7 linked regions of the Homo sapiens genome follow. Changing the gene in region 3 together with the main gene of any one other region gives a genetic interaction. Each region holds a gene or a part of one and is shown on either strand. Other genes may lie near its edges.

What was found.
Region 1: changes in FDPS (region 3) and EMC7 together harm fitness more than expected from each alone (negative genetic interaction), as found in Homo sapiens cells (one large-scale study listed by BioGRID).
Region 2: changes in FDPS (region 3) and RINT1 together harm fitness more than expected from each alone (negative genetic interaction), as found in Homo sapiens cells (one large-scale study listed by BioGRID).
Region 4: changes in FDPS (region 3) and RRM1 together harm fitness more than expected from each alone (negative genetic interaction), as found in Homo sapiens cells (one large-scale study listed by BioGRID).
Region 5: changes in FDPS (region 3) and BNIP1 together harm fitness more than expected from each alone (negative genetic interaction), as found in Homo sapiens cells (one large-scale study listed by BioGRID).
Region 6: changes in FDPS (region 3) and ARIH1 together harm fitness more than expected from each alone (negative genetic interaction), as found in Homo sapiens cells (one large-scale study listed by BioGRID).
Region 7: changes in FDPS (region 3) and BOD1L1 together harm fitness more than expected from each alone (negative genetic interaction), as found in Homo sapiens cells (one large-scale study listed by BioGRID).

What each region holds. Positions count from the first base shown.
Region 1 is NC_000015.10:34,091,863-34,095,362, reverse strand, and holds part of EMC7 (endoplasmic reticulum membrane protein complex subunit 7 precursor), read left to right. Parts: intron 1-3,500. UniProt on the Homo sapiens protein: Part of the endoplasmic reticulum membrane protein complex (EMC) that enables the energy-independent insertion into endoplasmic reticulum membranes of newly synthesized membrane proteins.
Region 2 is NC_000007.14:105,542,201-105,545,700, forward strand, and holds part of RINT1 (RAD50-interacting protein 1), read left to right. Parts: intron 1-207; coding exon 208-449; intron 450-3,500. UniProt on the Homo sapiens protein: Involved in regulation of membrane traffic between the Golgi and the endoplasmic reticulum (ER); the function is proposed to depend on its association in the NRZ complex which is believed to play a role in SNARE assembly at the ER.
Region 3 is NC_000001.11:155,311,866-155,315,365, forward strand, and holds part of FDPS (farnesyl pyrophosphate synthase), read left to right. Parts: intron 1-389; coding exon 390-530; intron 531-3,500. UniProt on the Homo sapiens protein: Key enzyme in isoprenoid biosynthesis which catalyzes the formation of farnesyl diphosphate (FPP), a precursor for several classes of essential metabolites including sterols, dolichols, carotenoids, and ubiquinones.
Region 4 is NC_000011.10:4,097,799-4,101,298, forward strand, and holds part of RRM1 (ribonucleoside-diphosphate reductase large subunit), read left to right. Parts: intron 1-3,500. UniProt on the Homo sapiens protein: Provides the precursors necessary for DNA synthesis. Catalyzes the biosynthesis of deoxyribonucleotides from the corresponding ribonucleotides.
Region 5 is NC_000005.10:173,158,031-173,161,530, forward strand, and holds part of BNIP1 (vesicle transport protein SEC20), read left to right. Parts: intron 1-713; coding exon 714-815; intron 816-1,902; coding exon 1,903-2,021; intron 2,022-3,500. UniProt on the Homo sapiens protein: As part of a SNARE complex may be involved in endoplasmic reticulum membranes fusion and be required for the maintenance of endoplasmic reticulum organization. Also plays a role in apoptosis.
Region 6 is NC_000015.10:72,599,830-72,603,329, reverse strand, and holds the end of ARIH1 (E3 ubiquitin-protein ligase ARIH1), read right to left. Parts: 3' UTR 343-3,500; downstream 1-342. UniProt on the Homo sapiens protein: E3 ubiquitin-protein ligase, which catalyzes ubiquitination of target proteins together with ubiquitin-conjugating enzyme E2 UBE2L3.
Region 7 is NC_000004.12:13,603,726-13,607,225, forward strand, and holds part of BOD1L1 (biorientation of chromosomes in cell division protein 1-like 1), read right to left. Parts: intron 3,465-3,500; coding exon 3,392-3,464; intron 1,360-3,391; coding exon 1-1,359. UniProt on the Homo sapiens protein: Component of the fork protection machinery required to protect stalled/damaged replication forks from uncontrolled DNA2-dependent resection.

The sequences.
Region 1 (3,500 bases), on a different chromosome or scaffold from region 3:
GCAAAACCTATTTGAAGTTGAAACATTTGTATAGTATCTATAGTCTTCAGAGTCAGCTTCCCATTATAATAGAACACATTTATTTATTTATTTTGTTGTCTCATGGCAATAGCATCCTCTTTGGTCAAATCTGACCAGGAAATATATGAAGCAACTCCTAAGTGGTAATGTCTCTTCTTTAAGCTATCAAATATGACTATGTTGCAGTAATAAAGCACAGGTCATGCAAAGGCAAAAACAATTTCTGGAGGTGGAGGACTAATAAATAATTTTACTACTGATCTTTTTGGTGTCTGCGCAGCATATTTAGACTGACTTGTAGAGACTCAAAATTGAGCTGACACATGTTCAGTTAGTACCATACTATTTACATTTGAGTTAGTGTTTACTCCTAAAATTTGTAATTTGTTTCTTCTTTCTTTGCTTTCTTTGACATTGAAAGTTTTAAAAATGTAATATGTAAATATGCCATAATTCAAATAGAATGAGTCACACATGGAGTTGTCCCATCCTTTATCTTAGCTGCGTGTTAGTCCATTGGTGGATTTGACATCATTTATATAACCGGCTCCTATTGATAGACAAGCAGTGATTTCTTTCTCTTCTTTTAGCATGTATACTAAACAGAGACAGTTATCAAGAGAATATTCTTTTTTTTTTTGAGACAAAGTCTTGCTCTGTTGCCCAAGCTAGAGTGCAGTGGCGCAATCTTGGCTCATTGCATCCTCTGCCTCCCAGGTTCAAGGGATTCTCGTACCTCAGCCTCCCAAGTAGTTGGGATTACAGCTGCACGCCACCATGCCTGTCTGATTTTTTGTTTGTTTGTTTGAGATGGAGTCTCGCTCTGTCACCCAGGCTAGAATGCAGTGGTGTGATTTCGGCTCACTGCAACCTCTGCCTCCTGGGTTCAAGCAATTCTTCTGCCTCAGCCTCCTAAGTAGCTGGGACTACAGGCACCTACCACCAACGCCCGGCTAATTTTTGTATTTTTAGTAGAGACGGGATTTCACCATATTGGCCAGGCTGGTCTCGAACTCCTGACCTTGTGATCTGCCCGCCTCCCAAAGTCCTGGGATTACAGGTGTGAGCCACGGCACCTGGCTTGATTTTTTTATTTTTTTGTAGAGATGGGGTTTCGCCATGTTGGCCAGGCTGGTCTCAAACTCCTGACCTCAAGTGATCTGCCCACTTTGGCCTCCCAAAGTGCTGGGATTACAGATGTGAGCCACTGCACCTGTCCAAGAGAATATTCTTGATATTATCAGGAAAGTAATACTCTAATGCCACTAATATATTCTTAAAAACAAATTACTTTTCCCCCCTACTTTGTAGAGAGACAAAATCTTGCTATGTTGCCTAGGCTGGAGTGTAGTGGTTTTTCTCAGGTGCAATCATAGCCCGCTACAGCCTCAAATTGACCTTTAGTGATCTTCCCACCTCAGCCTCCTAAGTAGCTGGGATTATAGGCATGACTGTACCACTGCACTCCAGCCTGGGCAACAAAGCAAGATCCTGTCTCAAAAAAAAAAAAAAAAAAAATATATATATATATATATGTGTGTGTGTGTGTGTGTGTGTGTATACATATATGTGTATATGTAAAGTTCTTTTATATTAAATCTGTGCCTTAAAGGACTTATTCATGACTTTTTGTATATTTTAGAATTGTAAGCTTGGAAATGGAGGGGTACGTGGATCACAGTATATGTTATATATACTGCTTTAAACATTTTTTTTATATTGAAAACACAATATTGGACGGAATGAGAGCTGCTACACAAAAGGGAATACTTGTATTTTTTTTTAATCCTTTTTACTCTGGTTAAATTTTGAATAAAATAGTCTTAGCAAATAGGAATATTGTTTTAAATATAGACGGTCCCCAGCTTACAATGGTTCAACTTATAATTTTTTTTTTTTTTTTAATTTGAGACAGTCTCGCTCTGTCACCAGGCTGGAGTGCAGTGGCGTGATCTCGGCTCACTGCAACCTCCGCCTCCCGGGTTCAAGCGATTCCCCTGCCTCAGCCTCCTGAGTAGCTGGGACTACAGGCATGCGCCACCACTCCCAACTAATTTTGCATTTTTAATAGAGGCAGGGTCTCACCATGTTGGCCAGGATGGTTTCGATCTCTTGACATCATGATCCTCCTGCCTCGGCCTCCCAAAGTACTGGGATTACAGGTGTGAGCCACTGTGCCCAGCCCTCAACTTAGAATTTTTTGACTTTACCATGGTGCGAAAGCGATACACAGTAGAAACCATACTTTAAGTACCCATAACAACCATTCTTTTTTTTATGCTTAGTACAGAATTTAGTAAGTTACATGAATTAAATAAGTTTCTTATTATAAAGTGGGCTTTGTATTAGGTGATTTTGCCACTGTTGGCTAATGTAAGTATTCTGAGCACTTTTAAGGTAGGCTAAGCTAGGCTATGTTGTTCTGTGAGTTAGCTGTATTAAATGCATTTTTGACTTACAGTATTTTTCAATCTATAATGGGCTTATTGGAATGTAAATTGAGGAGCAACTGTATAAAGTTTTCATTGCCTTTTTACCTTGAGTAAAGAGTACTTCCTGCTTTAGCACTTATGAACTGGTTGCAGCAGTGGGATTCATGTTCTCAGATACATTCCTGATGATTGGATGTCTGAAGCATAGGTTAAATTAAAAAAAAGAAAAAATTATTTAAAAATTATTTTAATAATTAGGGATGGGGCTGGGCACGGTGGCTCACACCTGTAATCCCAGCACTTTGGGAGGCCGAGGCAGGTGAATCACGAGGTCAGGAGTTCAAGACCAGCCTGACCAACATGATGAACCCCATCTCTACTAAAAATACAAAAATTAGCTGGACATGGTGGCGTGCGCCTGTAATTCCAGCTACTCAGGAGGCTGAGGCAGGAGAATCACTTGAACCCGGGAGGCAAAGGTTGCAGTGAGCCGAGATTGCGCCACTACACTTCAGCCTGGGCTTCAGAGCAATATTTCGTCTCAAAAAAATAAAAAATAATTGGGGGTGTGACAGAGTAGAGAACAAAGTGGGATTCATATAAGATCCTAATTCTTTGTGTGTGTGTGTGTGTGTGTGTGTGTGTGTGACGGAGTCTCACTCTGTCACCCAGGCTGGATTGCAGTGGTGCACCCTCAGCTCACTACAATCTCCACTTCCTGGGTTCGAGTGATTCTCCTGCCTCAGCCTCCCAAGTAGCTGGGATTACAGGCATGTGCCACCATGCCTGGCTAATTTTTGTATTTTTAGTGGAGACAGGTTTTACCATGTTGGCCAGGCTGGTCTCAAACTCCTGACCTCAAATGATCCACCCACCTTGGCCTCCCAAAGTGCTGAGATTACAGGCATTAGCCACTGTGCCCAGCCTTGACCAATATTTTATAAGCATGCAGCATGCATGATAAATTAGTTTTGAATATATGTGGGATTTTCAGTTCTGACATTTTGGCAGAGAAATGCTGGATAAAAATATGACGAACATTTTCTT
Region 2 (3,500 bases), on a different chromosome or scaffold from region 3:
GGTGCATATGTGTAGTCCCAACTACTGGGGAGGTTGAGGTGGGAGGATTGGTTGAGCCCAGGAAGTCCAGGCTGCAGTGAGCTATGATGGTACCACTGCACTCCAGCCTGGGCAACAGCGTGAGATCCCCTCTCAAAAAAAAAATTATGAAAATTTTATCTGATTGCTGCTGTTCTTTCTTTCTTTCTTTTTTAAAATTATGGTCAGGTACTTACAATTTCATCAGAAATTCCTAAAAGAATTCGAAGTGCCTTAAAAAATGCAGAAGAATCAAAGCAATTTCTTAATCAGTTTCTGGAGCAGGAAACTCATCTCTTCAGCGCCATTAACAGCCATTTGCTGACTGCGCAACCTTGGATGGACGATCTTGGAACCATGATTAGCCAGATTGAAGAGATCGAACGTCATCTTGCTTACCTTAAATGGATTTCACAAATTGAAGAACTAAGGTAAAATGGGCCTCTTTGTTCTCACAATTACTATTTTCCTTTGAGGCTTCTGTCTTAGAGAGTACATGTGTGCCATTAAATAATTGAGTTAATTAAAGATTATAATAATATAATTTTACCAGTTGTTGTGAAAATAGCATTATGATAATGATTCTTTTCCTTTATTGTGAGTGAACATAAGCTTTTCAGGGAGCTTAATTAGCATTTGAAAGAAGGTAATGTAAGTACGTTAAACTTTTAAGTTTTTTTTTTTTGAGATGGAGTCTCGCTCTGTCGCCCAGCTGGAGTGCAGTGGTGCCATCTCGGCTCACTGCAAGCTACACCTCCCGGGTTCATGCCATTCTCCTGCCTCAGCCTCCCGAGTAGCTGGGACTACAGGCGCCCGCCACCATGCCTGGCTAATTTTTTTTTTTGGTATTTTTAGTAGAGACGGGGTTTCACCATGTTAGCCAGGATGGTCTCGATCTCTTGACCTCACTGTCCGCCAGCCTCGGCCGCTGGAAGTGCTGGGATTACAGGCATGAGCTACCGCGTCCGGCCAAACTTTTAAGTCTTACAGTTGGATTATGAACACATGATAAAAACTATTCTTTGTAATGCCAAATTAATAAAACACAAAGTTTGGTAATAGTTATTCTTATTTAATTTTTAGAACTGGTCAGTTAATGAAATGGATTGCTTTTGTATAATTTGAATATTTTTCAGTGGGAATCATAAGAGCTACACAGTATTCTTGGATGAATAACAAGAGTTCTGCTACCTCTGGGTAGGAAAAACAAAAAAGGAAGTAAGGCTTGACCTTAGTTCTTTTTGAGTTGAATACCTATCACTGGTAGTTAATTGTATCTAGCTTTGCCTTTCAGACAACCCAAAGTAACATTTCCACCTAGATTAGTAGATGATAAGGTCCCCACTATCCTTGCATTGTTTTAACTAGTACTTGCTGCAGAGCTGTCAGCAACCATTAATTTTGCCTGGAAAACCTGAGGGAGAAAAGTCTTCTGGGAGTCTTAATGTCCTGTTTCAAATGTATCATAGTTAATAAACCTGATATTACTTTTGTTATGGATATGTTTTATGTATTTCTTTTTCTTGCATATATTTCCCAAAATTTTAAAGAATTTTACATATCAATATAATATAGAAATCTTTGTTTTTAGGCCAGGTGCAGTGGCTCACACCTGTAATCCCAGCACTTTGGGAGGCCGAGGCGGGCAGATCACGAGGTCAGGAGTTTGAGACCAGCCTGACCAACATGGTGAAACCCCGTCTCTACTAAAAATACAAAAAAAAAAAAGAAATTAGCCAGGCATGGTGGCGCGTGCCTGTAATCCCAGCTACTTGGGAGGCTGAGGCAGGGGAATTGCTTGGACTCGGGAGGCAGAGGTTGCAGTGAGCTGAGGTTGTGCCATTGCACTGCAGCCTAGGCAGCAAGAGCGAAACTCCGTCTCAAAAAAAAAACAAAAAAAACAAAAAAACTTTGTTTTGCATGTATGAGGAGTTTTACATATAAAGTGGTTTAGAACATCTCATTCTTGTTTAGATAAATTATTTGCAGTGAAGGAATTTTAAACCTTGCTTTATTTTACTGCATTTCTCCTTGTCCCTCAGAAAGGAAATATCAGTAAGGGGCAATGTTAATAACTTTATTAAGTAAAATACGTTATTTGAAAACCTCACTCTTGTAGTAGCCAAAGTAATAGATTAACTAAATTAGGTCCATGGTTATTGATAAACTTTTCTTTTTTCTTCTTTTTTTTAACATTTATTTTATTTATTTTAATTTTCTTTTTATTTTTTTTTGAGTTGGAATCTTCCTCTGTTGCCCAGGCTGGAGTGCAGTGGCACAATCTCAGCTCACTGCAACCTCCACCTCCCGGGTTCAAGCGATTCTCCTGCCTTGGCCTCCCGAGTAGCTAGGACTACAGGTGTATGCCACCACGCCCAGCTAATTTTTGTATTTTTAGTAGAGATAGGGTTTCACTATGTTGGCTAGGCTGGTCTTGAACTCCTGACCTCAAGTCATCTGCCTGCCTTGGCCTCCCAAAGTGCTGGGATTACAGGTGTGAGCCACTGCACCTGGCCTTGATAAACTCTTCAGATATCTGAATTGTTTATAAGGGAAATATGCCGAGGGATTTATATTAGAAATAGGGATCAAATTCATAAGCAGGTAGAGCACAGTTATTTTTCTGTCTTTAATAATGTGTTATTTCCCTGAGGTCTTTTATGATAATCTCTCCATTTCCAGCTTTCCTTTAGAGCTTCTGGGATTTTCTTCATCTCTAAATTTTTTTATAATGGCCTATTTTTATTCTGATGTACATTGTCTTTTTTTCAAGTAGTTTCTTCTTGCTAGAATTAGCATCCTTACATTAGCTCTGTTTCTTGGATACTATAGTATAGCACTATCACTCTGAGTGAACCTTGTTTCTCTAGCTTTTCCTATGTTGTAAATGTCATTCATACTTTAGTGTTGTGAGGAAATCTATTTCATTCCTTCCTTAAAAGCAGTACTCCTGCCGGGCATGGTGGCTCATGCCGTAGTCCTAGCACTTTGAGAGGCTGAGGTGGGCAGATCGCTTGAGCTCTGAATTCTGTGACCAGTCTGGGCAACATGGCAAAACCCCATCTCTGTTTAAAAAAAAAAAAATCAGCCAGGCTTGGTGGTGAGCACCCATAGTCCCAGCTACTCGGGAGGCTGAGGTAGGAGGATCGCTTGAGCCCCGAGAGGTTAAGATTGCAATGAGCCGTGATTGTACCACTGCACTGCAGCCTAGGTGACAGAGTGAGACTCTTTTAAAAAAAAAAAAAAGGCAGTACTCATATTCTGTTTGTACATTTGAAATTCTTCTGTAATATTTGTATATATATATATATATTTTTTTTTTTTTGAGATGGAGTCTTACTCTGTTGCTGAGGCTGGAGTGCAGCGGCACCCTGTCAGCTCACTGCAACCTCTGTCTTCTGGGTTCAAGCAATTCTCCTGCCTCAGCCTCCTGAGTAGCTGGGATTACAGGTGCCCATGACCACGCCTGGCTAGTTTTTATA
Region 3 (3,500 bases):
GAGAGGCTGAGCCAGGAGAATTTCATGAACCCGGAGACAGAGGTTGCAGTGAGCCAAGATCGTGCCACTGCACTCCAGCCTGGGTAACAGAGAGAGAATTCATCTCAAAAAAATAAATAAATAAATAAATAAATAAAAACAAAAAATAAATTTACTAGGGTAGACCATGCAGAAAGAATGTGCCTGGGTACTGGGACCTCTTCTAGCTTTGCTCCAGAAATTTGGGGAAGGAGTAAAGACAGTAGCAATTCCAGAGGCTCCTTGAAGAGGAGTTGGGGTTGGGGAGGATAAAGTTAGGTGGTGGTTGGAAATGGGAGAGAGCAAGGAGAAAACTCACAGTAGCTGCTGTATGGACCCTGATACCCTGTACCTCTTTCCTTGCCCTCCAGGTCCTGGAGTACAATGCCATTGGAGGCAAGTATAACCGGGGTTTGACGGTGGTAGTAGCATTCCGGGAGCTGGTGGAGCCAAGGAAACAGGATGCTGATAGTCTCCAGCGGGCCTGGACTGTGGGCTGGTGTGTGGAACTGGTGAGAGGGGTAGGGCAAGGGAGAAGAAGTTTCCTGCAATGGTGGTGACTTGGGTGGGAAGGGGAGGGATGGGCCTGAAACTTATTTCTGGGTTGTGTTTGTGTTTCTTTGTCTCTAGTGTGCTACGGCCAAATTTAGAGTGAATCACTCCAAGGGTTAACTAATGTGGGGAGCCTCTTTTGGCATTAGGTATGAAGATGGCTGTAGATAGTTGTAGACAGTGTGGACTGGGGCCTCGAGACTGGGCAGAGAGGTGTCAGCTCTTTCCTCTGAGCAGAGGATGGCTATAAAAGTGACAGAGGAGGCCGGGCATGGTGGCTGACACCTGCAATCCCAGCACTTTGGGAGGCCAAGGGGGAGGATCATCTGAGTTCTGGAGTTCGAGACCAGCCTGACCAACATGGAGAAACCCCATCTCTACTCAAAATACAAAGTTAGCTGGATGTGGTGGCACATGCCTGTAATCCCAGCTACTCGGGAGGCTGAGGCAGGAGAATCGCTTGAACCTGGGAGGCAGAGGTTGCGATGAGCTGAGATTGCACCATTGCACTCCAGCCTGGGCAACAACAGCGAAACTCCATCTCAAAAAAAAAAAAAAAAAAAAAGGTGACAGAGGTCTTCCAAAGGCTATTCAGAAGCAGAAATTGAAAACTGGCAGCTCACTGACAGTATTTTGAAAATGTTTTACAATTAAGTCTCCTAAATTTAACAAAGAGATTTCACACTAAAACCTAGATTTCTAGCATGGCTTGGGAAATTGTAAGATTTGGGTCCATGTTCCCGCATAGCAACAATTGGCTGAAGCTGAGTGGATGCAACTTCTGCAAGACGGCATGTGTTCTCCTGTGTGCTTTCTCTAGTTTGCTCCAATCCCCACATCCCCTTGTCTTCTATACCAGTTCGTCTTGGTCTTGAAGGTGTCTAGTTTGCTGGCATGGCCTAAAGCTTTCATTAGTGGCAGGGGGACTGGGTTCTGGGAGGGGTGCCATGCCCGAGGAGGGTGGCAGTGAGCCCAAAAGGGAAGAGCATTCAGAACTTGGTGAGTGACGATGATGCTGAGTGCCTGGCCTGAGAGGAGCAGCTGGCTCAAGGGAAGACGTGCTGAGCACAGTCAGCCCGGGTACGTTCTTGGTATGGGTGGAGCAGGTGGATCTGCCTGTCCTGTGGGCGGTGGAAATTCCAGTCTGGAACTTGTCGGGGAGATGGGTCTGGAGAATAGAGATTTGCTTCCAAGGAGGTAATAGGCCCATGGCATCCAGGGAGAGGGCCCTGGATGACAGGGATGCTGAGGGGCTGAGGGGTTCAAAATATGGAGATGACAGGCAAGGAAGGAAGGGAAGGAGGATGAGGGCAGAGCAGAGGAGTAAAGCTATGGGGGCCAAGGGAAGCAAGACCTTGAGGGGCCAGTGGTTAACTGGTAGAATCAGTTCATTTTTTTTTTGAGATGGAGTCTCTCTCTGTTGCCCAGGCTGGAGTGCAGTGGCACCATCTTGGCTCACTGCAACCTCTGCCTCCCAGGTTCAAGCAATTCTCCTGCCTCAGTCTCCTAAGTAGCTGGGATTATAGGCACATGCCACCATCCCTGGCTAATTTTTGTATTTTTAGTAGAGACGGGGTTTCACCATATTGGTCAGGCTGGTCTGGAACTCCTGACCTTGTGATCCATCTGCCTCGCCCTCCTAAAGCGCTGGGATTACAGGCGTTACAGGTGTGAGCCACTGCACCTGGCCTAGAATCAGTTCTTAACCCTAGCAGCACCCTAGTTTCACCTGTAAGTTTTTAAAAATTTTTAATTTTTTTTTTTTTTTGATACAGGGTCTTACTCTGTTACCCAGGCTGGAGTGCAGTGGCATGATCTTGGCTCACTGCAATCTCTGCCTCTGGAGCGGAAGCCACCCTTCCACCGCCTCAGCCTCCCAAGTAGCTGAGACTACAGGAGCGAGCCTCTACTTGGCTTTTTTTTTTTAGAGACTAGGTTTCACCATGTTGCTGAGGCTGGTCTTGAACTTGTGGCATCGAGTGATCTGCCCATCTCGGCCTCCTAAAGTGTTGGGATTACAGGCGTGAGCCACCACGCCTGGTCTAAATTTTTTTTTAGAGACAAAGCCTCATTCTGTTGCCCAGGCTTGAGTGTAGTGGTGCAATCATGGTGTACTGTAGCCTCGACCTCCTGGGCTCAAGCGATCCTTCCACCTCAGCCTCCCAAGTAGCTGAGACTACAGGTGCCTACCACCACGCCCGGCTTTTTAAATAGTTTTTTGGTAGAGATGGAGTGTCACTATGTTGCCCAGGCTGGTCTTGAACTCCCGGGCTCAAGTGATCTGCCTGCCTCGGCCTCCCAGAGTACTGGGATAACAGGTGTGAGCCACTGTGCCTGGCCTGGGTTTTTTTTTTTTTTTTAATTTCCCTAATAAATAGAAAGTGCTGGTGGGGTTAAGAATCAGTGCTAGGAGGCAGAGGAAATTTGGGGAGGCCATGGAATTAATTATCTTGGAGACCATCATGGTTGAGTGGTGGTGGCTGAAACAAGATTGTCCTTGCAGTCACCCTTGGGAGAGGCAGTGAATGGGTGGCTTCAGGGAAACCATGCTACTCCAAATAAACACAGAGTCAATTAAACATGTGCCTTTGATGTGGAAAGCCCAGGACCTCCACACTACTCTTCTGAGTTTAGGTCAGAGGTAAAGATGCAGATGGATGCCTCCTTCCCTGAGGACCCTGCCTATAACAGCAGTGATTGCAACGGTCCTTTCCCCACGGCCCATGCTGGGCTCTGGCAGGCGGTGTTGCATGCTTCCTTTGCAATGTGGATCCACTACAGCACACAGGATTAGGATGGGATAAAGTCTTAAAAACCATGTCTTCTAGGCCAAGTGTAGTGGCTCATGCCTGTAATCCCAGCACTTTGGGAGGCTGAGGCAGGTGGATCACCTGAGGTCAGGAGTTCGAGACCAGCCTGACCAACATGGG
Region 4 (3,500 bases), on a different chromosome or scaffold from region 3:
TTTGAAGTACCTACTGAATATGCTAATGTCTTGCTAAACACTGTGAGGGCAGTAATGGAGAAGGCAGCTCTATCTTCAAAGAACTTAAAATTGTTAGGGATTTAGGAACAATCCATATGAAAATTATTAGATAGAAGAGAATAGTAGATGAGTTTTTTTCATCTGCTATCTTGAGCTATTTTTCCTAATGGGAGAGTATCATTCCTCAAGGAGATTATGGTTAAAAAAATAAACATTGAGAACCATTGCAGTAAATGACAAAGTAGCTAACTGAGTTGTAAACTGTTTTGGAATTTAGTGTAGTATTTTCAAAACTTTGGATTGTAACTCACAGTAAAAAACAAAACATTTTACAGACATGTGTATATATGTGGATACACATAAAATGATACAAAAGTTTACGAAATAATGTCTTTGAAAGCATCCATTTGCACTCTAATCTTTCTTTTATTCCAGATTCTTTCCCTATCCCTGCCTCCCTCCCTCCCTTCCTTCCTCCCTTTCTTCCTCCCTCCCTTCCTTCCCTCCCTCCTTGCTTCCTTCCTTCCTTTCTCCCTCCCTTCTTTCCTGCCCTCCTCCCTCCCTCCCCTCCCTCTCCCCCTCCCTCCGTCCCTTCCTCCTTCCTTCCTTCCTTCCTTCCTATTCCATTCACAGCCTGCTAATATTATTTTACAACTCTGTGGATACCGTGCTGTTCACCGGGATTGCAGTGATGAGTAGGCAGACATGGTTCCAGCTTCCAAAGATCCTACAATCAATTGAGAAAGATAGACAAATAAAGAAGTAATATGATAAAATATGATAAATACTCTGATAGGTAAAGTATAGGCAGTAGAGGCCATTCATTCAGTTATTCATAAAGCATTTATTCAGCACCTCTTTGTGCTAGGAACCGTTGTAGGCATTAGAGATTCTGCAGTGAACAAAGCTAAATTACATTTCTCATTGAGTTGACTTCTTGGTGTGGGTGGGAGTGGTAAGTGTATATAAGAAATAAGAAGTAAACATAATAATCAGTTAATTTCAGATACTGATTAATGAGATGATAGTAAAACAGGATCATGTGATAAAGATGAATGAGAAAATAACCTTGGATTGGGTAGCCAGGAAAGGCTTCTCTGAGAAGCCAACATTTGAGCTGAACCCTAAATAGTATTAAGAGCTAGTAATGTGAGATCTGTGGCCTGAACATTCTCGGCAGAGGGAATTAGAAAGTTTGTATCCTGTGGAAAAGGCACGCATCCTTGGTCTTACAGGATTAGGGAAGTCTTCCTGAAGAGAGAAGAATGAAAGACAGTTTATAGCCAAGAGGAAATCACACTAGTATGCTAGAGGATTTTTTAATTTTATTTTTTATTTTTTGAGACGGAGTCTTGCTCTGTTGCCCAGGCTGGAGTGCAGTGGTGTGATCTTGGCTTACTGCAACCTCTGCTTCCCAGGTTCAGGCAATTCTGCCTCAGCCTCCCGAGTAGCTGGGATTACAGCATACCCAGCTAATTTTTTTTTTTTTTTTTTTGTATTTTTAGTAGAGATGGGGTTTCACCATATTGGCTAGACTGGTCTCGAACTCCTGACCTCAGGTGATCCGCCTGCTTTGGCCTCCCAAAGTGCTAGGAATACAGGCTGAGCCACCATGCCCTGCTGGCTAGAGGATTTTAAAAGAGGAAAAGGTCAGTGTGAGTTAAAAGTGGTTGAGGCAGGTTTTATGGAGGTGTGAGATTTGGAGGGTGAGTAGGAGTTAGATGTATGGAAAGGTGGAAGAGGAACCTTTAGGCAGAGTAAGGTATAAGCAATGATGTGGATATGGGAATGGGAAGCCCTCTTGGGACTTATATTTCACAGGGAACAGTTGAAGAGATCTGGGGCCAAACTAAGAAAGGCTTTGCTTGAGAGAAGAGGATAATGTAGGCAGTGAGAAGCAGGGATTAGTGATGTGATAAAATCAACATCTGGCTTGAAAAACTAACCAAGTGGAATGACAGAATAGAGAACTGTGTGTCATTGGACCTTTAGATCTTTAGTCTGCCTCCTATTTTCAAGTGTGAGTTAAGATAATTACCAATGCACTTTTTTTTTTTTGTCAGTTTCCTGATTGACTTCAGAACTTCTGGCAGTTGTAGAATTTTCTTTTTGCTAAGTTGCTTTCCCCCCCCACTGCATGTATAATTGCAGAACGCTAATGTTGCTTTGCAGTTACCTGCCTGCTTAGTTATCCAATTGCTAGAGCACTGAGGTTTCAGTCCCAGTGCCAGCCAGTTAATTTACCCCATTTCAGAGTTAAATGCTGCAGATGTGAGCCTGATGAGAAAATTATCACAATGGTGATCAGAAAGAGAGGGGCTAACATATCAGTGTAGAAGAAAAAGCAACTTGTTCTAGTGATAATGGGTTAATAGTGATGTCTTATTGTTCATTTATTCTTCATCAAATGTTTGAGAACTTGCCTTGTTCTAGGCACTAAATTTGAGAATACAGATGTGAATCAGAGGGCCAAATAAATGTAAACATATTTAGCATGTTTCTTATTGGTTACTTCAGGTTGAGTATCCCTTATTCAAAATGCTTGGGCCCAGAAGTGTTTCGGATTTTGGATTTGTTTCAGATTTTGGAATATTCGCATTATACTTACTGGTTGGGCATCCCTAATCAGAAAATCCAAAATCTGAAATGGTCCAAGGAACATTTTCTTTGAACATTGTGTTGGCATTGAAAAAGTTTTGGATTTTGGAGTGTTTTGGATTTTGGAATTTTGGATTAAGGATACTCAGCCTATAGTTACAATGGATTGTAGGTGCACAAAAGAGACAAAAACTAAATCAGTGTGAGACACTAACATTTATTGAGTGCCTATTGTGTATCACATACTGTGATTTTTTTTTCCCCCATAGGAGCAGCTTTATTTTATAACGAGGTATAGTTGTAACTATGCCAAAGTTGTTACAACAAAAGCACTTTTTACCTTATCTAATTTTATTGTCACAGTAAACTGATTAGGCAAGTAAAATAGATATAATAATTAACCCCTTTCTACAAATGAAGATCTGTGAAATGACTGATTGTGTTTTGTGGCTTGTCTAAGGTTAAGGCTGTTTGGTGGTTGGATATATTCACTATTCCTGGTAAGAATAAATAAAGGTCGGATGAGCTACTATTTGAGGTTAAACTAAGAGTAGTAAGACTTTTTTGTCTAGAAGGACAAAGATATAATCTAAGTCCAAAATCATGAAAAATATTAGGTAAAATATATAGTATGTCAGATGGGGTAAGTGCAATGGAGAAAAAGCACAGAAGGGGAAGGGGGATAAGAAGAGCAAGGGTCCTATTTGGGGCATTGCAATTTAAAATGGAATCATCAGGGAAAGCCACATTGAGAAGGTGATGACATTGAGCAAAAGACCTAAAGGAGATATATAGCAAGAAGGCCAAGTTGTCAAGGTACAATAGGAAGGAAGGTGGGAGAGTTGGAGGTGAAATTGGGAAGTGGGTGCACAGGACAAGTG
Region 5 (3,500 bases), on a different chromosome or scaffold from region 3:
ATCTTCGCTCCTCCGCCTCCTGGGTAGCTGGAACCACAGGCATGCGCCACCACCATGCCTGGCTAATTTTTTGTATTTTTAGTAGAGACGGGGTTTCTCCATGTTGCCCAGGCTGGTCTTGAACTCCTGGGCTCAAGTGATCCCCCCACCTCGGCCTCCTAAAGTGCTATGATTACAGGTGTGAACCACTGTGCCTGGCCACGATTTTTTATTTCCTACAAAGTATATTAACTCAGCAGCTGAAGGGCCAGAAATGGTTGTTCAAGATACTGGAGATGAGTAAGTCATGGTTCTCCGGGGATGGTACCAATTAATACACAGGCCATAGCAGTACAGCCTTAGAGGCAACTGGACTGAAGAGGGGCCTTGTGTGACCAGCTGGGAAGTTTGGATGCCTCCCTGAAGTCCAGCCATTGTGGAGCTGTGCACAGAGGAGTGCCATGTTCACAGCCCCTTGGGCTGACGGGGGCAGAGTGACAGCAACAGAGCCTCCCCGTGGCGACCTCCAGGGTCCGGTCAAGGGGTATCAGGACCTGAGCAAGAACAGTTGCTGGGGAACCAGGAGGCGGAAGTGGCAGGAGGTGGGATGGGCTCTGAAGGCCGTGCCTGGTGGCCTTCTCCCGTGTGCCTTTGTTGGGGGGAAGTGCTGTGAATTGAACTGACTTATGGCTTGGTGGAGTGGACACACTCACACGTGAACCTTCCAATTCCAGCAATCAGGCCTCATGGAGGAAAGCTAATCTCACCTGCAAAATTGCAATCGACAATCTAGAGAAAGCAGAACTTCTTCAGGGAGGAGATCTCTTAAGGCAAAGGTACCTATTCTTTTATTTTTCTGGGCTCCGATAATAATAGATAACAATTGGCAAGGTGTAGGAAACCCCCTCTTGTTTTCAGCTTGGTGCTTAATTTAATTACATAAGTAATTTTTTTAAGTTTGAAAAAAATGCATACTTATTTGTAGTAAATTGGTAAAATAAAGTATGAATTACAAAATTAAAATATTGAATTTTTTTTTTTTTCTGAGATGAAGTCTCACTCTTGTAGCCCAGGCTGGAGTGCAGTGGTGCCCTCTTGGCTCACCGCAACCTCCGCCTCCTGGGTTCAAGTGATTCTCCTGCCTCAGCCTCCAAAGTATCTGGGATTACAGTTGCGTGCCACTGCACCCAGCTAATTTTTTGTATTTTTAGTAGAGACGGGGTTTAACCACGTTGGCCAGGCTGGTCTTGAACTCCTGACTTCTGGTGATCCACCCACCCCAGCCTCCCAAAGTGCTAGGATTATAGGCGTGAGCCACCATGCCCGGCCGAAAATATCAAATCTTATTACTCATGAACATTTTGGTATATTCTCTCCCTCATTTTTATTTCTACATTTCTTACAAAGTCAAAATTGTACCATACATAAAATTTCATATTCTGCTGTTTCAGCACAAAAGTTGTTCATTAAAAAAAAAAAAAAAGCTTTTTAAGCCTAATTCTAACAGTACATAGTATGTAGATTGTATGTTAATACAATTCCCTGTGTGTGTTTGCATTTCTAGTGTTTAAGTAGTGTAAGTAATACACCAGGGCATGTCTTAGAACATAAGGCTTTATCCACATTTTGGATGTTTCCTTTGGAGGGATTTCCAGGGATGAGATGATTGAGTCAAAGGAATGAACATTACCAAGGCTCTTCAATTGGCAAATTGCTTTACAGAAGGCAGCACTGGTTTATGTTCCTACTAGCAGTCCACAGGGGCGTGGGTCTCAGCACACCCTTTCCAGCATTGAATGTGATCATTTAAAATATGTATACTAATTGGATAGGTAAAACATGAGATCTCATTTGGATGTGGGGCCTTCTTGCAGGGAGGCTTTTGTTGACATTCCTCCCCTTTCTCTTCCTCTGAACTTTTAGGAAAACCACCAAAGAGAGCCTGGCCCAGACATCCAGTACCATCACTGAGAGCCTCATGGGGATCAGCAGGATGATGGCCCAGCAGGTCCAGCAGAGCGAGGAGGCCATGCAGTCTCTAGGTAAAGCTGGGCCTGGAGTAGGAAGCTTCTCCCAGAGACGCTGCTCTAGGGCCCTTGCCCTGGCACCTCCACTCTGGGCTCCTCCACCACAGCCCACACGATGTTCACTGACTTGGGTGGCTTCTCCCTCATGAGATGACTTGACACCATGGTCTTATCCAGTGTGGGATGTGCTGCTCCTATTTCTCTTTTTTTTTTTTGAGATGGAGTTTCGCTCTTGTTGCCCAGGTTGGAGTGCAATGGTGCGATCTCAGCTCACCGCAACCTCTGCCTCCTGGTTTCAAGCGATTCTCCTGCCTTAGCCTCCCAAGTAGCTGGGATTACCGGCCTGCACCACCACACCCGGCTAATTTTGTATTTTTAGTAGAGACGGGGTTTCTCCATGTTGGTCAGGCTGGTCTTGAACTCCCAACCTCAGGTGATCCGCCTGCCTCAGCCTCCCAAAGTGCTGGGATTATAGGCGTGAGATGCCACGCCCGGCCCGTATTTCTGTTTACTAGAAGACCCCACACCCCCATCGATGTTTCCTCAGGGGGAGCATTCCCATGTGTTCATGTGAAAGGCAGAGGTCCCAGCCCCTCTCCTAGAGAGGGTGTCGGCAGGGCTGGGTGAGGGGCCTGGAGTCTGATTTTCAGTGAGGGCTCTGGGGACCCATATGGCCAGGCAAGTTTGGGAATGGTTGCTCCAAGAGATGTTTGGCGAATCAGCTGCTGGTAGGACTGCTAGGACCTCAGTTTACAATTATACTCCCCAACGTTATTTTTCCTATGAGTTCCTTTTAAAAGATGTGAATCAGAGGCTACAGGAGAGACTGCTTGAGACCATCTGGTTTCCTCCAATAGTTTTCCCAGAGTGTCTCCTCTGTGATGGAGAAGAGTATCAGCCCTCTCCAGGGTCCTTCAGTATAAGACAACAGAAAAAGGGCGTTTACTCCTTGAAACGCTTTTGGAAAATTGCACACGTGGACAAAAGGAGAAAGCATGGTATCCTGAATCCCCTGAGCCCTGAGTCCATTACCCCAGCCAGTCTCGTTTCAGTTCTACCCTCAGCCCATCCCCCATCTGGATTATTTTGAAGCAAATCCCAGACATCATCCATAAATATCTCAGTACATCTCTCTAAAAGATAAGGGACTCTTTGGGGAAAAAGCAGAAGCAACCCCATAACTACAATACCATGATCACCCCTAGAAATTATAATTTTGGACCACTGTTTTTTCAGTGCACCAAATAGGCAGAAGCAAAAGGAAAGCAAGCAGGTGACCCCAAGGTCACTCCTTGAGTTTGCAGCTTACCTGAACATCTGGGCTCGGAACCAGCCAGGGGCTTCCTCTCAGCGTGTGCTGTGGGAGAGGCCTTGGAGAGAGAGGGAGCAAGGCGACAACTTGGCCTCTGAGCCCAGGGCTTTTATGCTCTGGTGTGGCGACAGCATACCCCCCGCTAACAGTGGGAAGGAAACACAAATGCTGGTGGCTTCTGG
Region 6 (3,500 bases), on a different chromosome or scaffold from region 3:
GCTAGTTTTTTTGGTAAAATTAGCCCCAGTACAGACGGGGTTTCTCCATGTTGCCCAGGCTGGTCTCGAATTCGTGAGCTCAAAGCAATCTGCCTGCCTCAGCCTCCCAAACTGCTGGGATTACAGGCATGAGCCACTGTGCCCAGCCTGGAAAAAAAATCCACTTCTAATCTAGCAAATTTTGTGTTCTTGTTTACTATTTTAGCATTAATAACACCAAGTGACTAACATTCTCCTCATGAGCGCTATGCTAGGAATAAAAGCTTGCCACGGTGGAATTATCTAAACTAGAAGAAATCAATACCATGGATCCCAACAAAAATCAACAAAAGGGACCACATGTTCATTTTATCTGATATATTTCTGGAAAAAAATGTTTGCCATAGCAAAATGGAGACGGGGAGCCAAGCAGCAAAATACATCCGTAGTGAGGTACAGAAAACAGTATCCACTAGAAATCTTTTCAGGAAGGGTGCCATTTTGGGTTGGAGAAACTCCTTGAAAGTTAATTTGGGGGAGAAGGAGAGTCCTTGAGGGACCAGGGTAAGGTCAGAACGTTTCCTGGGAGAAAGGGGGAACATTTCTCTGGCTAATAAGGGCACAGTGCCGGACAGGGTGAAGAAGAAAAAGTCAGTCAAGAGTGGTACATTTCAGAGCATGAAAGGCCTCACACTGCATAAAATAGACTACACCTTAAGACTTCCAATTTTCAGTAAGACTCTTAGGCCCATATAAAATTCAGGAGCCTGTGGATTTTTTGGTGTGGAAACCACTGAAGAGGCAGATTGTACATCTAAATTGCAAGGGCGAGACTTAAGTATGAATTGGGAATTTAGAGTGTAGCAAATTAGTCAGACATTAGATAATAAGTAAGCAAAGTTTATGAACAATTCACCAAGAAATACAAATGGCTCTTTAACATATGAAAATATAACTGTGCAAGGAAAAAAAACATGCAAATTAGTTTCCAAGAGATACTTTCCATTTCTTGCATTGGCAAAGAACAAAAATTTCACTGACATAATTGTGAGGACAAATGCATTCACTAGTGGGAATTCATAAAACTTCCATTGAGAGCAGTTTGGCAATAACTACCAAAATTAAAAATGCACATAATCTTTAACTGAATTATTTCAATTCTAGTAATTTATTCTATAGGCATAGATGTGGGAAATGACTTTACATACAAAGGTATTCAATGCAGCATTATTTGTAATAACCAATGCCTAAAACCAACCTAGATAGAGGTTAAATAAATTATAAGTCCATATTATATGGCGCATGAAAAAGAAAGAGGCAACTATTTACATATTAATATTGAATAATTGCCAAGATATATTATTAACAGATAAAGTGCAGAAAATGCATATAGTATCTGTATTAATAAAAAGGCAAAAATAAAGAGGAATATTATATACATAATTGCTTGTATACTTAGAAAATATTTCTGGAAGGATATTCAAAATGCTAAAAGTGGTTCTAAAGAGGAGAACTGGGTAGCGGGGGGACAGGGAAGAGAAGACTTTTTACTCTATACCTTTAATACATTTTGAATTTTGTACTATATGGATGTATTACCTACTCCAATAATAGCGACTAAGAAAGTGAAAAGCACAACATACCAAGAATTGTGATAAATGCTAAGAAGGAGAAATATAGAACAGTTAGAACAAACAATGGGGAGCCAATCTAGACTTGTTTGGACAGGGAAATTTTTCCTGGGTAAGAGATGTTTAAAATGAGACCTAAAGGGTAAGGCATTAGCTTAGGGAAAGGGGATGAAGACATGTGCAGGCCAGGAAAGAATTCTAAGGCAAAGGAAGAACTTGTGCAAAGGCCCTGAGGATGGAAGAATCTCAGCCAGTTTGCAGCACAGAATGAAGACCAGTGTGAAAAGAGAAAAAGGTAACAGGGTTGGTTGCAATAGGAGAAGAGGTAGGAGTGCAGATCCACAAAGGCCATATGAGGAATTTTATTTTAAGGGCATTGGGAAGGCACTAGAGAATTTTGAGCAAGGAATGGCATGGTCAGAATGAACACTTAATAAACTCATGTTAGCTCATGAGTAGAGACTGAATTGGGAGGGGGACAAAAATTGATAATCTAGGGTAAACTAAAGGATGCTGCAAATGAGATGATGAAACACTTCACTTGGACTAGTGTGATGGCAAAGGAGATGGAGAAAAAGTAAATGGGTTCTCAAGTTTAGAGGTGGAAAAACCTCCAATACACATGATTGGATATGGGGGAATGAGGGAAAGGGAAATGGATGTTAAAGGAAGATTGCCAGGTTTCTTACTTTGAAAGCTGCTGGATGAGTGGTACAGCCAATTACTGAAATGGGAAGACTTAAGGACAAAGATGTTTGTAGAAAGCTCATGAGGCTGTTTCCCAATATGTGAAATCTCCCTGAAAGGGGTCCTGTGAGGAGCAAATGACATTCTTTATTCAATAACTAGAAGCCATTGCTATAATGTTTCAAAATCTCTCCTTTGACCTCAGATCTTGTGAGGAAGATAGAACACTTTCTGTACCAGGGCCTTTTTCAATAAGAAAGGACATTGGTTTCTCAAATTGCAATCACTAAACCTAATGTACTTTAATTATATACATAATTAGAACAATCTCTTTTTAAAAAAACATAATAGGTTGGATACTATGGTTCACACCTGTAATCCCAACACTTTGAGATGCTGAGGCAGGAGGATTGCTTGAGCCCAGGAGTTCAATACCAGCCTGAGCAACATAGTGAGACCCGTCTCTACAAAAAATTTTAAAATGAGCCTGGCATGATGGCATGTGTCTGTAGTCCTAGCTACTTGGGAGACTGAGGAGAGAGGCTCTCCTGAGCCCAGGAGCTCAAGGTTGCAGTGAGCTATGATTGCACCACTGAACTCCAGCCTGGGTGACAGAGTGAGATCCACTGTAAAACAAACAAACAAGAAGTATGTTCACAGGAAAATCCCAGAAATCACATAGAACATGTTTCTTGTGTCACAGATGGATCTTCATTTCCCTTAGCAAATCTCCTCAAATGTGACCCTGCTTATCAAGATTATTCAAATCATATAGCTGTGCTGGGCATACAAAAAAAATGGCATTTATCTATTTTTATGGTGGGGGCTGAGGACATAGAAGAGGAATCAGGCATCGGTAACTTTTCAACACCCCCAATATATGTATAAACAAGGAGCTACAGTTGAGTTTTTACATTTTTAATGTTTTATCATTTGTACTGACAAGGTCCATAGCCAGCTTTGTTCTGATGCCACCTGCTGGACAAGTCTGTAACATCTTATTTCTCTTTGGAAGTGTCCAGTCCTCCCAAAACCTATACCACAAACGCTTGAGAGTCCAGCCAACACTGGGAAATATCACTTCAAAATAATATGAAGCTTCACTGGACTTCATGGAGGATTTTCAGTATGCCTATTCTTGATGCTACAGATATACTCAATAGCAATCAATGGTGAATGTGGACAAAGGCATAATACTGCATT
Region 7 (3,500 bases), on a different chromosome or scaffold from region 3:
ATTACCTCTGGCCTTTTCATGACTACTGTCAACTTCTTTACCATCCTTGTCATCTGATTTATTTTCGTCCTTCTTTTTTATGTCTTTACTACTATGCTTTAAGCTTCTGCTTTTGTGGCCATCTGACAACTTTCTCTCAAGCCTGGTGGAAGTGGAGTCTTTATCACTCTTATATTTCTCCTTTGCTAATGGTAACTTGGCTCTATGACTAGAATCCTTCTGTGTACTATGTGCTGAAGAAGAAGCAGTCTCTAATACAGGTTCAACACCAGTTTCTTCAAAAGGTTTGTCTTCAACTTTAGACTTACGCTGTTTTTCTGAGTCATTTTCTTCTGTGTTCTTCTCCTTGTCTGGTTTTGGAGTGGTTGCCTGTTTTGTGGCACCTTCTTGTAATTCTGTTTCTACAACTTTTACCTGTTTGCCTTGAGTTTTTGATTTAGACTTCAACACAAGTTTCTCTTCTAACAAGCTCTTTGTTCGTCGTTTCTCCTTGTGAACAACCTCTTCTGGTTTCAAATTACTATCCATGTTAGTGGAGTCCATATCACACTTATCTTCCGAATAACTTTCACTTCTTCTCTGTAATGTGATACCATGTTGCTTGGAACCCAGAGAATCTTTCTGAATTTTAGAATCACTTGACCTTCTTGATTTGTGCTCTGCCTTAGTTTTTTCAGCTGACAAGCGTCTCTCTTTTTTGTTGTTTTCTTTACGAACATTCTCATCTGTTTTTATAATATATTCAGAAACTGGCTTTCCATCTTTGCCTAATACTGATAATTTCCTTTCATTCCTATGTTTACTTTTTCGTTCGGTTTTATCATCTGAAGAAAGCTTTGTTTGTTGACTTTGCTTTTGAATATTTTCCTCTACTTTTAAACCTTTCTCAGAAGAGTGAAGCTCAGTCTCATCACCTGTTTTATGCATACAATCACCTTTATATTTATGTTTCACAGACAATTTGTCTTCCGATGGAGTTTTCTCTCTTTCAGGCTTCTCCTTGGAGGATTTCACCTCTTTCTTAAGTAGGCTTTTCAAATGTGGTGTTTCAGAATCATCTTTCTTTAGATGCTTTTCGTTTTTAAGTGTGCTTTTCTGTTTCTGGGGCTCTTCGGTGCAAATTTCTGAGCGTTCTACTTGCCTTTTTACATCTCTTGTGTCAGTCTCTTCCTGTACCCCCTCCATGATAACAGGGGTAGATGTCCGTCTTTTATGTTCTCTTTCTAATTTGGATTCATTTTTGTTTTCGTCAACTACATGCAAAGACTCTGAAAGTCTCCGGGCAGGTTTACTTGGTTCACTTTTTGCATGAACATGCTTCAGCTCCTTTGAAGAAGAAATTTTTTCCTTTTCACAATGCTGAAAGAAAACAAAGGTTAAAATATGAGAAATACCAAAATCAATTTTTAGATTAAAACATAACATTTGGGTGGATTTAATATGTTGAGTGCTGTCACATATGTAACATCTCACTTAATTCTTACAAACAGCCTGTGTAGGTGTCAAAAACTCACCTGATTTTAAAAAATAAGTATTATTAACTTGATTTTAAGAAGCTAAATTCTTCAAAGAACTAACAGGAGTTTGCAACAACCATATTTTACAATAAAAAAACTAATTCTAAACAATATGAACAATTTTATGAGATTATTTCTCATAGAGATTTATCACAAAATAAAGTTAAATACTTAAAAATATGCCATTAAAACATCAGGAAATTGTAGCTCAGCATGATTCTATAACTTGACACTCAGACCACAAGTAGGTGTGTTAGGAATGAGTTTAGATTATTTCATTCCGAGTCTAGTACTCCTTCCAGTATATCACAGGCACTGATTTGTCTATGAATTCTTCAATTCTGAATCACTAGAACTCACTAATGCCCAGTACTCAATAATAAATATGAGCTGAATAAATGACAGTCAAATGTCCTTTTCAGTCAAAAACATAATACATGAAGGCAATTTAAAATTGAAATATACTGAAATATAGATTTCCTATATTTTAATTTAAAAAGCTGAATTATGTATGGAAACCTCATGAATTTAGGCTACTTGTACAATATTCTACACATGAAGCTTCAAATGTACACAATAACGCACAGTAACCATATCATATATAACATATGTATATGTTTATGTATTCAAAAAAAGATACGGAGAGACAAGAGCATCTAAACCTTCCTTCTGGCCCTGTGGTTTGGCACTAAGTAGGCGATTAATATTAATGAGTGGAGGTTGACTAAATCCACTTCAATAATACTCACTGACTACTAGCTATAATTATTCTTATGCAAATAATGGGCCAAAGTTCAGACGGACCTTTGTGCCTCTAGGTCAGTTTAACACTTCATCTCCTTAAATGTCAACACAAAGATTAATGTACTTCTACTAATAACAGGGTCCAGGACATAACAAGACCTTATTAAATAGCTTAAAATAAAATTCCTCAAAGAACTAACAGGAGTTTGCATCAACTTCACAATAAAAAACTAATTCTAAGCAATGTGAATACTATTTTATGAGATAATTTCTTATAGAGAATTATCATAAAAGAAAGTTAAATATTTAAAAATATGTCATTAAGCCATCACTATATACTTCTAAATACGCCTTTAATTTCTGAGTAAATAAATTAAATTTATGTTTGCTGATGATGAACAAATAATCACTAACATTGCTTTTTCCCTCTGGAAATATTAAGATAGTTTAGCTACAGAACTACAGATAATGTGGTTTTTGTAAAAAAGAATTTTAAAACAGTGAAAGCAAAAGTTTGTCCCACGAAAATAATCCTGAAAGGGGGAAGAAAACATTGTACGTTACTTTTACTGTTTAAAATGATCAAATCTTGGAAACAACCTAAGCGCTAAAATATAAGGACATGCTTAAATAAATTATGGTATGTACATTATATGTAACACTAGACAATCATTAAATAATTAGGATGCCTAGAAGGTAACATGAAATGAGTAAAATGTTAAAAACAGTTTGCCAGATTACTTGTACTCTAAAAAATTATGTGGACCCGTGGATAAGGAATGAGAGGGAATAAAAAGGATAATTTGTTATAGTGGAGGGATTTTAGATTTTAATTTTAGCCTCCCTTTTTCTTTTTTTGTCATTACTGGCATTTTTGTTATTGCAATTATAAGAAATGGGAAAAGAGAAGAAGAGTAGCTATTACCTAGATAAACGACAAATATATAAATCAACTCAACAAAATGGGCAATTTGGGACATAACAAAATGGGGTTTCAAAAATGCTGAATGTAAGTTGACTTTTTATTTGACTTGAAAAAAGTCAAATTACATTCTAAGTTTTACTCCAAAGGAATAAACAGCCTATATCTAACAAAACAGCATTTGAAATGAGGTTTTATTAAGGCATACCTCACTTGTTTTAAGGGTTTCTTTGGAATCTTCTTCATATTGCTGTTTCTTTTTGGAGTTCTCTTCAACATTCCTAAGGGGGAAAGAGTCAAATATAAAGCATGAATCA